2 separate regions of the Homo sapiens genome follow, and region 1 is linked to region 2. The links come from fine-mapping of genetic effects on gene expression. A gene starts in region 2. The other region holds a variant in brackets. All regions are shown on one strand. Distances are from middle to middle. Region 1 overlaps ERBIN (erbb2 interacting protein). Region 2 holds the start of ERBIN (erbb2 interacting protein).

Region 1 (5,384 bases), 45 kb after region 2:
CTCAAATTCTTACGTGGTTGCAGTTAGATGGTTGCCAGGGCCATGAGCCAGAGCACCTGCGTGTGACTTCTCGGTAAGACTTGAGTTTCCTTACAGCAAGTGGCTGGTTTCAGAGGGCAAGTGGATGAAAGGAAAAGGGCAAAAGCCTAAGTGGCAACTGTATTAGCCTTTTTATCCTAGCCTTGGACGTCATGTAGCATCACTTCTGTTATATTTTGTTTTTAAGAAGCGTGTCACCAAGACCAGCTCTTATTCCAATGACGGGGAAGAGGATTTCACCTCTTGAGGGGAGAAGTGTAAAAGAATTTGTGGAAAATGTTATACCTACCACAACCTCATTCTACAAAATAGTGGCATCTTGTTGGTTAGGGATTAAGTTCTAAAGTCAGTGTAAGTAGAAGGTATCATGATGGGGAGACCATTATACATTCTCTGTCCGGCACGGTGAGGATTTTCTATAGGTTCAAGAAAAAGTCACTGTTTCTTCAACTGAATATCAAATAAGATATATTTGGCTTGTGTTCAGTGCCTTTCTTGTGTGGAAAATATATTTAAGTACTAGAGTAGCATTCAGCAAGGTGCAATTACCAGACTTTGAGAGGCTCTGTGGAAAAGAAAATTGACATCACTATCAAACTAGTTACAAGACCTACATTTATTGAGTAAAGAAGGAAGGTAGGCAGAATTACTTGCATTATTACTTTTATTTAATTTTGATTTAATTAATTAATTTATTTGAGACGATGTCTTGCTCCGTTGCCCAGGCTGGAGTGCAGTGGCCCGATCTTGGCTCACTGCAACCTCCACCTCCTGGGTTCAAGCAATTCTCCTATCTCAGTCTCCCGAGTAGCTGGGACTACAAGCGCCTGCCACTATGCCCTGCTAATTTTTCTATTTTTAGTAGAGACAGGGTTCCCTGTGTTGGTCAGGCTGGTCTCAAAACTCCAGACCTCAGGTGATCCACCTGCCTCGGCCTCCCAAAGTGCTGGGATTACAGGCGTGAGCCACTGCGCCTGGCCTATTGCTTTTATTTTTAAATTTGGAGAAATTATGTAGCTCAATTCATAAATAAGTAGATGAACGAAGCAACTACTTTGTTTTCCCAAATCTTTGTTTCAAATAAGAAGGGAAATATCGTGATTGAGAGGTCTCTTCCCTTCTTTTAGTAAAAATAATGCAATACCGCGTTTAAGGGCATATAAGTGAATGAGAGTTAGTATTGACCTTATGCTACTGTGATATATGTCAATTAAAAAAATGCTAATGTGTCAATTTCGGGAGGATAAAGCAAAAAGAAAAAAATGCTAATGTGAGAACAAGCATGCCAGCAAGCCATGGTCACCCCACACCCAATAAAACAGGTAAACAGGAAAACACAAAAAGTACCTGTGAGTATGAATAGTATATATAAAATATTTTCAAAGAAACAAGTTACTCTTATGTATCTTCAATAGAAAGGAAAAACTATTATTTATTCAGCTTATGTATAATTATGTTTTCTGTTGCTGATTCAGTTACTTTTGGGAAAGGCAGTACAAGTAAAGCCACTCAATATGGCTTTGTGTTGGACATTCGTAGTTTCTTAGAACAGCTAACGAAAATGTAGCTTTTATGCCCTTTGTTTTTTAACATAAAGAATCTGAGATTGAAGAGGTAGTGTGTTCAGGATTACAGAATGATAAATGGTGGAATCTAGACTCAAATGTAAAGCAGTATTATTTCCAAAGCCAGCTACTTTTGTGTTCAGCTATATTGTTTTTGAATTTTCAGTGATTTATTGGTAGGCTTTTTGTTATCTGGGAATTCCTTCTATTAAAATTATATTGTCAAGTGTTGAAATATGCAGGTTTTAACTAGTTGCATTGACACAGCTTGATTTTGTGTCACTCTAAAACTCACCCCCTGCTCCCCCAGGGAGCAAAAACAAATAAAAACCACATATAAACATAGCTTTCTAGGAACAGTAGTTTCAGATACTGCTTCCTAAATTGTTCAAATATCTTAGCTTTTCAGTTCTGTTTGTTCCAAGGTGGTCATATATTGTTATTTTTCAATAATCAGATTTAGTTGTTTTGCCATTTTTGTTTAGGGAATTACTATTAATTGTTTTTTAATATTAAGCATGATAAACTTCAGATGTTTCTCTTTTTAAAGACCTGGTTTTC[G/A]TATATTGAGTGGTTTCACTTTTGTTACCTTGCCCCAAAGTAATTGAATCAGCAACAGAAGAAAGCATGACATTTTAATTGTCTACGTCAAATTACATAATCTAGTGAAGTATGAAGACTACACTGTTAAATTATTAATGACTTTTGTTTATTAAACCAAGCAGTGAAAGAGATGGTATAGGGACATTCCCCTCATATTTTATAAGTCATACTACTGGCTAAATAGTATCAGGATTGTTTTTAGCTCTGCATTGCTAACTGAGTGATCTGTCTAAAACTTAAATTAGACTATGTCCCTCCTTTGCTTTTAAGTCTTAAAAACTGCTGCTTACCAGTCAAAGTCTATATTACTTAGTATGGTATTTAAAGCTTTTAAGTTCTAGCCCCCTGCTGACTACCCTAACGTCATTCCTATATATTTCAAAGCCTATCCTACCGAAGTTTGTCTGCTGGCAACACTAACTACTATTTTTCTGTATGTAGAGAGATTCTACACTTTGGTTTATATATTCTATTCTGTCCTATTTGACTGTTTTCCCTTACCACCAGACTATTTGGTCTCCTTTTTCCCCACATTTGTAACTTTTTATATTCTTTTTAAGACGTGCTCTTGCTCTTTTGCTCAGAGTTGAGTGCAGTCGTGAATCATAGCTCATCGTGGCCTTGAACTCCTGGGCTCAAGCAATCTTCCTGCCTCAGCCTCCCAAGTGTAGCTGGGGCTACAGACGTACACCAGCATGCCTGGCTAATTTTATTTTTATTTTTATTTTTAGAGACAGGGTGTTGTTGTGTTGCCCAGGCTGGTCTTAAACTCCTGGCCTCAACTCCTGCCTCAGCTGGGATTACAGGTGTGAGCCACTGGGCTGGGTGGCTATCATGTTTTATCTAAAATTAGAAACTCCTTGAGGCAGGGACCATTTATCTTTGTATCTTTAGTGTTCAGCACCTAGTAGTAACTCAGCAAATGTTTGTTTTCTTTCTGACATATTTGTCATATTTGTATTTGTTGTATTTAGCATCAGAAAGCCAAATATGGTCATTCAACGTTAATTTGACTGATTCCTTTTGTTATTTTAGTCCAGAATTGCTACCAAAGTGTTTAGGTTTGACCTTTTTGTGCCCAGGAAGTCTAGTCGTTTTGATGATAAATCTAAATTGGTTGAGGTGTAATGAAAAAGACAACCAGGTGTCTAGAAGTGACTGTGACAATTGCAGATTTATCTTGTTTGTGCATGCTGGTTTTTTTTTTTTTCAGTGTTCAAAGCCTGTATTGCATCAGGTTTTCAGGTTTAGATTTCCTAAATTTGGAACACAAAGTTCCCTTTTTAGAAGAATAGGTATTGAGCCCTTGAGCGTGGGTAGAAAGATAGAGACAGAGTGATTTGCAAAATAATGGAGGATCATATTTATATATGAATTTTCACTTATTTGAACTTTCAGATATCAGCTCAAAAGCTTTGGTATAAGTAAAGTATATTAATGAGACTCCTTGGATGAAAGTAACCAAAACCAGTAAAAATAAGGTAATAAGGATGTAATAGTTTCTTATGGACACTCAACAGCTAGAATGCAGTTAGTCTCAGAAAAGAATTAGAACAAATAACTGGAAGGCCATCAGGAGTCCAAAACCATCACTCTTTTATATTTTATATTTTATTTTTCTCTCTTCAGATGAGCATTCTCTTTCTATGTCCATATGGTAGAAGGCGGCAGCTCCATAGATTATGGCTTCAGATGTTACAGTTCCGCTAAATGCAGGGACAGACTTGCTATCTTTCAGTCCCACTTACATATCCTGGGGAGAGAGCAAATGATTGACTGGCTTGAGTCAGGTGCCCGTTCCCTTTCCAATCTGCTCCATCTAGGAGGGCAGTGTTACCTGGTACCAAAATAGATGTTAGAGGGCCACCCCTTTCAAAAGGGAGAATAGCTCTCACAACAGGGCTTCTATGTTGTGCAGGTTGCTTATTCCACATGCTGCTTGCCAAGCTGTATGCCTATAAGGGCTGCAGTTTTAAAATTTGTACAAAGGTGCTTTATGGATTTGTGGTAACCTTTTCTCAGAGAAAGGAGGAGTCATTGTGAATTGGGGGGCTATTCCAAGGGGGTCTGCTATGTCATTTTTGGGGGATATTTATTGTCCATCTTAGTATTGCCAGACTCTTAGCATTGAAATATTAGATTGTCTCTCACCCTTGGGCCATGGAGTTTTATTGCAGCAAAAACAAAAATCCATATGTATATAAGTGTTTTCTCAATAGGTATATTGACAGTGGACTTACTATGATGTGGAGCTTTGACATTTGTGGACCTGCTGCGGTGTCCTTACACTCATTGAGAACCATTGATGTTACGCAAATGCTATTAAACTTTGCATCTAAGACTTCTTATTTGTCCTGTGACCTTTGATTATATTTCAACATGCATAAAGTACTTTAGAGAGATGGGGAGTGCCATGTATGTGAATGAACTTGGCACTAAGCACCCCATAGTTTCTACAGAAAAATTTAAAGAATATTTGTTACTTAAAATTAAGTACTTTCAAAATAATGTTTGGTTAAGTAGAAGCTTAAATTTTTGTTTTTCTTCTTTTCCTCTCCATATCTGTTATACTATTTCACTTACAAAATAAATCTTCAGCCTTAAGGGATGTTTGGGATAGTTTTACAGGATTATGGATTTTATTCCTAAAATAGATCTGAATGCTACAAAAAGTGAAACTTTTTAAAGATAAGATTGTCATCAAGTGGTGGTATTTTAAAGCTTTACTTATAAGCGGTAATAATTAACCTTTGAAAATCCTGCTGTAATAAGGTGTTGAGAGTGATCTAGCTTTCTTTGGAAGGTTTTTGGTGTTCCTAATCATTCCCAGCCTAAATTAACCCCAAGGAAAATGAGAACTTCAACCTGACCTCTCATTGTTTTGCCAATTCCTACGTTTTTTTCGGTTTCCTTTTGGTTCTTTTATTTCTGTTCCTTCTGTTCAGTTTAGGGGAAAGAATAAACTTATAAAGAAATTCACCTTAAGAAATTAGGGCCTTGTCACATATACACCATGGAATACTATGCAGCCATAAAAAAGGATGAATTCATGTCCTTTCTAGGAACATGGATGAAGCTGGAAACCAACATTCTCAGCAAACTACCCCAAGAACAAAAAACCAAACACCACATGTCATAGGTGGGAATTGAACAGTGAGAACACTTGGACACAGGAAG
Region 2 (5,384 bases):
GGCTTATTAGTAGTTGTTCAGTTTTGGGAGAGTCAAATGTTATATGCTCACATAGTTGGTTGGTGCCCCTAAATTCCATATTATTCAAGGGTCAACTGTATTGACAAGTGTATCCTGGATTCCATCCTCCTTTCTTGGTTTTGTAGAGACAAGGTCTCACCATGTTGTCCAGGCTGATCTTGAACCCCTAGGCTCAAGCAATCCTCCCGCCTCAGCCTCCAAAGTGCTGGGATTACAGGTGCGAGCCACTGCAACCGGCCAGATTCCATCCTCTTAAGGCCAGTGTATTAGGTGGCTCATTCTTACAGTATGAGTAAGCAGGACTTATTTAGCCATCAAAAGGGTCCTTTTATTGCCTGTAATCCTCTACTCTCTATATAACGCTCCAAGGAATGAGACTATATTTCCGTCTCCTATCAACTCAGCCTCAGCATATGTTATCTCTAGTTATCTCTATTTTTCCCTTCCAACAAAAGCTGCTTTGGGGAAACAATCTGATGAATTAGGTATAAATGACTAATAAGGATTAAAATATTACTTTTCCCAGGATTATGGTTTTGTGCTAGAGAAAAAAACTACTTAAAGGGATAAAACTCTAATGGCAGAATTTCAGGTGAGTTGGAGGGTTTTTGATTATAGGTACTTTTCTAGCCTAGATGGTAGTCTGTCAGATTGGTCCTGAGTGTGAGTATAAATTTTAAAAAGGCTAGGACCAGGGCAAGTCTTAGCCTAAAGCAGTGGCTTGATCAGTTAAGTTTAGAGAGGAGGGTTAGGTTTACTCGAATCTATGGCATCACATTTAAAGGGGTCTCGAATCAACCTGAGATTAGAAGCAACACTGGAATCCCAGAATCTAGCTGGTTTTCCACTAGTATGGGAGATATTCCATCCTGGGATGCTTTAGGAGAGTGACCCTTTCAGTTCAGAGCTATGCCACTGAGTTCTGATCAGGCGCAAAACGGTTTTTGAAAACGGAGCAAGAAATCTTCCCAGCGATGATTACAAATAGCTTGTACAATATGCTAACTTTAGCTTTTTATGCAATGGTTAAGATTCATTTTCACATAGATATCCAGCTTGGTAACACTGGCATAGCTGCTGCCATTTCCTAGCTTCCAGCGAATACTCTTACCTCTAATTCAGCACTGAATATATCTGAACACTTCAGTACTACCTGTAAATCTTCAACTTCTGCTGTATGCTAAATAACCTAACATCTGTATTAATTCCAGCAGTTCTTCAAGTAGTTAAAAATGCTCCCAACCTGAATAAAATGACTTGAATATCTTCGGCGTTATTTCAAGTGTTTGCAACTAATGTACAACTCATTTTGGTAAATGATTACTTGGTGGAATTTATGAACTCTTTCCATTGGCAAGCCAAAAAAAAAAAAAAAAAAAAGGTCTGTAGGGGATATAGCTCTTTATTCAAACTTGGTAATAAATAATTATCTCTAGAATACAGACGGAAGAACTGAACCAGGGACTTCAGGGACCCAGAGGCTAATTATCATCACTGTACACAGTTAAGTGCAGCAGAGAATGGGGGTGACGAATGGTTCGCTCCGCATTACGCTCCTTCTCTGGGTAAAACAAGGCCGTCTTTTCTGTGAACATATTTAAAGCAAGAACTGCAAAAACTGTGCAATGTTATGGTTGAGGCTTTCTATTTGCCATATGTGTTGACAGAATGCTTAAGAGTCTCTCTCCGCAATAAACGCGAACCCTGCCAGGCTGAATTATTAGGGCCAGCGCAATTCAACGACTGCACCACCACCGAACCGCTGGGGTTGGAAGCCTGCGTCGCATCGGAGCGTACCCATGTTTCTTCTAACAAAGGCACGATCTTGAGGCCATTTCGCGGGCCCTTTTCCCACTCCCAGCGCCAGCTTTGTCTCCCCGCCGGTATGAGGCTGAGACTTGGAGGAGGCTGAGCTGCGCCGCTGGGGAACAAGCTCGAAGGGCGGGCGTGGGAAGCTGCACCGCGCTGCCGCTGTGGTTTCCTGCGACCTGACCGTGCCATTAGAGGAAGTTGGAGTGCTGCAGCTGCAAGAGATACCTGCTGCCTTCAAATCAGGGCTGGACTCCAACAACCCCTGTGCACCGATTACTGTCGTACAAAGAAACTCCATCGGCCGGCGCGGCGGAGGCCTGTGGGCTCTCTATCTCTCTGGCTGGGCGCTGGGCCGCGAGCAGACAGCAGGGTCGGCGTTGCCAGCGTTCCCCACCCTGGGGGGCTCGGGAGTCCGGGAGTGCGGGGTCGGGGAGCGGGCAGGGAGCAGCGGGCAGGCCTCGAGGGGCCTGGGCCAGAGTGGGCCTCACGGCGCGCCTTGCACGCGAACCCACGGCCGCCGGCTGCCCCTCCCCCGGCCCCCGGCCCGCTGCCCCCAGCCGCCGACGTCGGCCCGCACCGCCCCCGCGCGCTGACTGGCCCGCGCAGGCCTCCTGCCCGGCTGTTGGCGGTTGGGGCGAAGCCGGCGGGAGGCCGCCCCGCCCCCGCCCCCGCCGCAGAGTCGCGGCGCGCAGCCTCTTCACCCGTCGCGGCCGGGGCGGTGGCGCTGTTGCCGCCGCGGCCTGTGAGGCAGTAACTCCCCTCCGCCCCTGCCCCATTCCTCCTCCTTTCTCTCCGCTCCCTCCGTCCTCCCTCCCCTCGCCGTCTCTCGCTCGAGTGAATGTGGCGCGGCGGCGCGGGACGCAGTCTCGGCCCCTGCCGCGGCCCCGCAAGCTCGTGAGGAGACGGAGCTGCCTCCTGCTCCCGCCCCCTGCGCGTCTCGGGGAGCCACCGCCGCTGGCGAAGGAGAACAAGCAGGGCAGCGGAGGGACGGTGGCGGGAAAACGGGAGAGGGAGGAGAAGAGGGTTCGAGGGCGAGTAGGGAAAGCGGGGAGGGACGGACGGAAGGACGGACGGCCCGACGGACGGCCCGGGGAGGGGGCCGCTATTGAGCCTGCCCGACTCCTCGGCTCCGGCTCCGGGTGGCGGCGGCAGCGGCGTCGCGGACGAAGGGCGCGGCAAGCGCTATCGAGACAATAACCCTGCCGCCCGGCTCTGGGGGCAACGGAGAGGAAGCGGTGGCGGCCTAGCGCGGCCGAGGCTCGCCGAGCGCCCGGGCAGCGTCCTCGCCCCCGCCGGCCGGGTGCTGCTGCCGTCCGGTGTGCCGGGCGCGCCGGTTGCCCGGAACCCGAGGCTCCCGGCGGCCGTCCCCTCCCCTCCCCCTCTCCGGTGCGCGCGGAGCTGGTTTTCCGGGTTCCCCTGGACGGAGCTGGATCCTGCTTCTCGCCAAGGCAGGAAGTGAGTTTCGCACTGCAATTCCGGGCGGTGTCACGAGTGAAAAGTTTTGTTTTTTTTTTTTTCGGCGGAGATCCTCGTTGGGGCTGGGAAACTCCTGCAAAACTCGAGACCAGGAAGCCAGCCCGCACCCCAACCCCCACCAAAGCCACCTACTCTTCTTCTGTGGGAGGCCAGTCCACATCCGCTCTCACCCGAGAGAGATATTCAGCTGGATCCAAAGTGACTGATGAAGGGAAGGAAATCATGTCAAGCGAAGCCTTGAAAAAGCTGCCCTGAGACGGTGTCCCGCCGAAAGGTAATTTTCACGAAAAGTGTCTCTGAGTCACAAAGTTCATGGGACTTTGTGACTCGGAAAAGAGATGATTCTTTAGTGTTTTTCACTCTTCTCCAAGTTGCCCTAAACCCTCCTTTTCTCATATCGAAGCGGTTAATAATTGAGGGGCTAAATAATCGAACTGCACCCCACCGCGTCCCTTCTCCCCCCTGCCCCCCCCACCATCTGGACTTTGAATTTTTTGGAAGAGGTTGTAAGAATGCGGTGGGACGAAAAGTTTTTAGTAATCCGAAGAACGATTGCCTTTGTTCAGCACAGGGGCCAGAAGTTTTGGCTTTCTGGAACGTATAGAGTGTATATTAAGTTGCTCAGCCAGGCACCTTCTGTTTGGGAAGAAAGTTTGGTCGCTGCAGTGAGTGATTTGCTGTTATTGAGATGGCTGCCGCGTTTGTTTATACTCATACCGATTATATTGGCGCTTGCGTTAATTGTATATAGAGGTATTTATTTTTATTTTTTTATTTCCAACCCTGATCAGTATATTTAGTTAGATTTTAGAAACCAAAAAATCTTGCCATTCTTAGTTGTTTTTCAGGGTGAGTAATATATTTCTTTAGTTGTGTGTAGTGTGTGTTTTTCAGACGTTTAGCGCCGTATAACTTGTTTAATTAATTGAAAGCAAGGATCGACTAGGCTTTTCTTGTAACTGATCCATTACGAAGAAAAAAGGAGTAAGGACTAAGAATAGGGAGAGATAATTAAACAACATTAACAACCTGTAAGACGTTTAATAGGACTTCTGTACAGTTCAGAACAGACGATGGGAGGGGAAGTAAAACGCTTAAAACGATTTTCAAGGGAATCACAGTGATTGTGATAAAAAGCTGTGCTTTTCGAGTAGTATGGTCTTTACATTTTTGTGTTGTCCCAAATGTTTTTGGTCGGTTCTGCATAAATAGTGATAGGTTCTGCCTACATCTGTGGGGGCAGGATTCATGAAGCATGGCAGACATTCCACCAGTCAGAGCTATGAACACTTCTGAACCAATGGGGACTAGTTTTGATAGCAGTAAACCCAAAGTTTTTTTCAGTGGTGTTTTAGTCTTTTTCTGTTTACTTTTTTTCCCGGTATTTTTGCGGTACAGGGAGGTGAAATACAATACTGTACTTTTGAATATATATTGAATAAATTTGGTAATCCTGTTGGTAGGTATATCCTAAATATATATTGATGTTTAGATTGCCTATGCTGTCTCACGTAATGACCGGAAACCCGAGGAGAGAGTTGATTTTCTTTAGTTCAAAGAGAAAAAATAAGTTTTAAAGATCAGGATCAAATTATTTCACAATTTGTTCTTTGCTACTTCAGCTTCATTAAGTACATCTCCAAAGGCAGTCCTTTATTTATTACTGTAGTTTTGATTTTTTTTTTCCTCCCCGGGGCATGGTCTCAGGAGATTCTTTTTTTTTTTCATTGTTGGTAAGATTTGTGAACCATGGAATAATTCTTGTTAAGTCAAACTAGCTTTATCAAAGAATTTAAAGTGCATAACTCATCTACTTTATGATTTTGGAACGTATCATTAGGCTGCAAAAGAGGTTATTCTTGGGCATCTGAAAGAGGTGAACAAAATAAATGGCATTGAACTTCAGTTTCCTTATATGGCTTATACTTGGCTTCAAAAGCAACAAAACCTTAATAGAGCAAGTCCCTTACAGAGAATTATCGCTTTATGAAGATGGTTATTTATTAGTAAATTTTGTATAAAAAAAGTATTGTAGCACTTGAAAATGACTATTTAAGCCTCTATTTTTAGATTTA

Evidence for each region. PIP is the estimated chance that this variant, and not a neighbour inherited with it, causes the effect.
Region 1: its variant is the best candidate, but not a certain one, in a credible set for the expression of ERBIN in whole blood (INTERVAL, PIP 0.85).

What each region holds. Positions count from the first base shown.
Region 1 is chr5:65,967,842-65,973,225 of GRCh38, forward strand. All of the region lies in intron 1 of ERBIN (erbb2 interacting protein), which reads left to right. Among named protein-coding and RNA genes, the nearest start is that of ERBIN, 44 kb to the left of the region's middle. The variant G/A (reference allele first, on the strand shown) is at 2,166.
Region 2 is chr5:65,923,224-65,928,607 of GRCh38, forward strand. It overlaps ERBIN (erbb2 interacting protein), which reads left to right and starts at 3,352. Exons shown (of 26, transcript NM_001253697.2): 1 at 3,352-3,583. RefSeq lists enhancers at 1,452-2,076, 1,576-1,795, 2,701-3,325, 3,286-3,505 and a silencer at 2,116-3,205.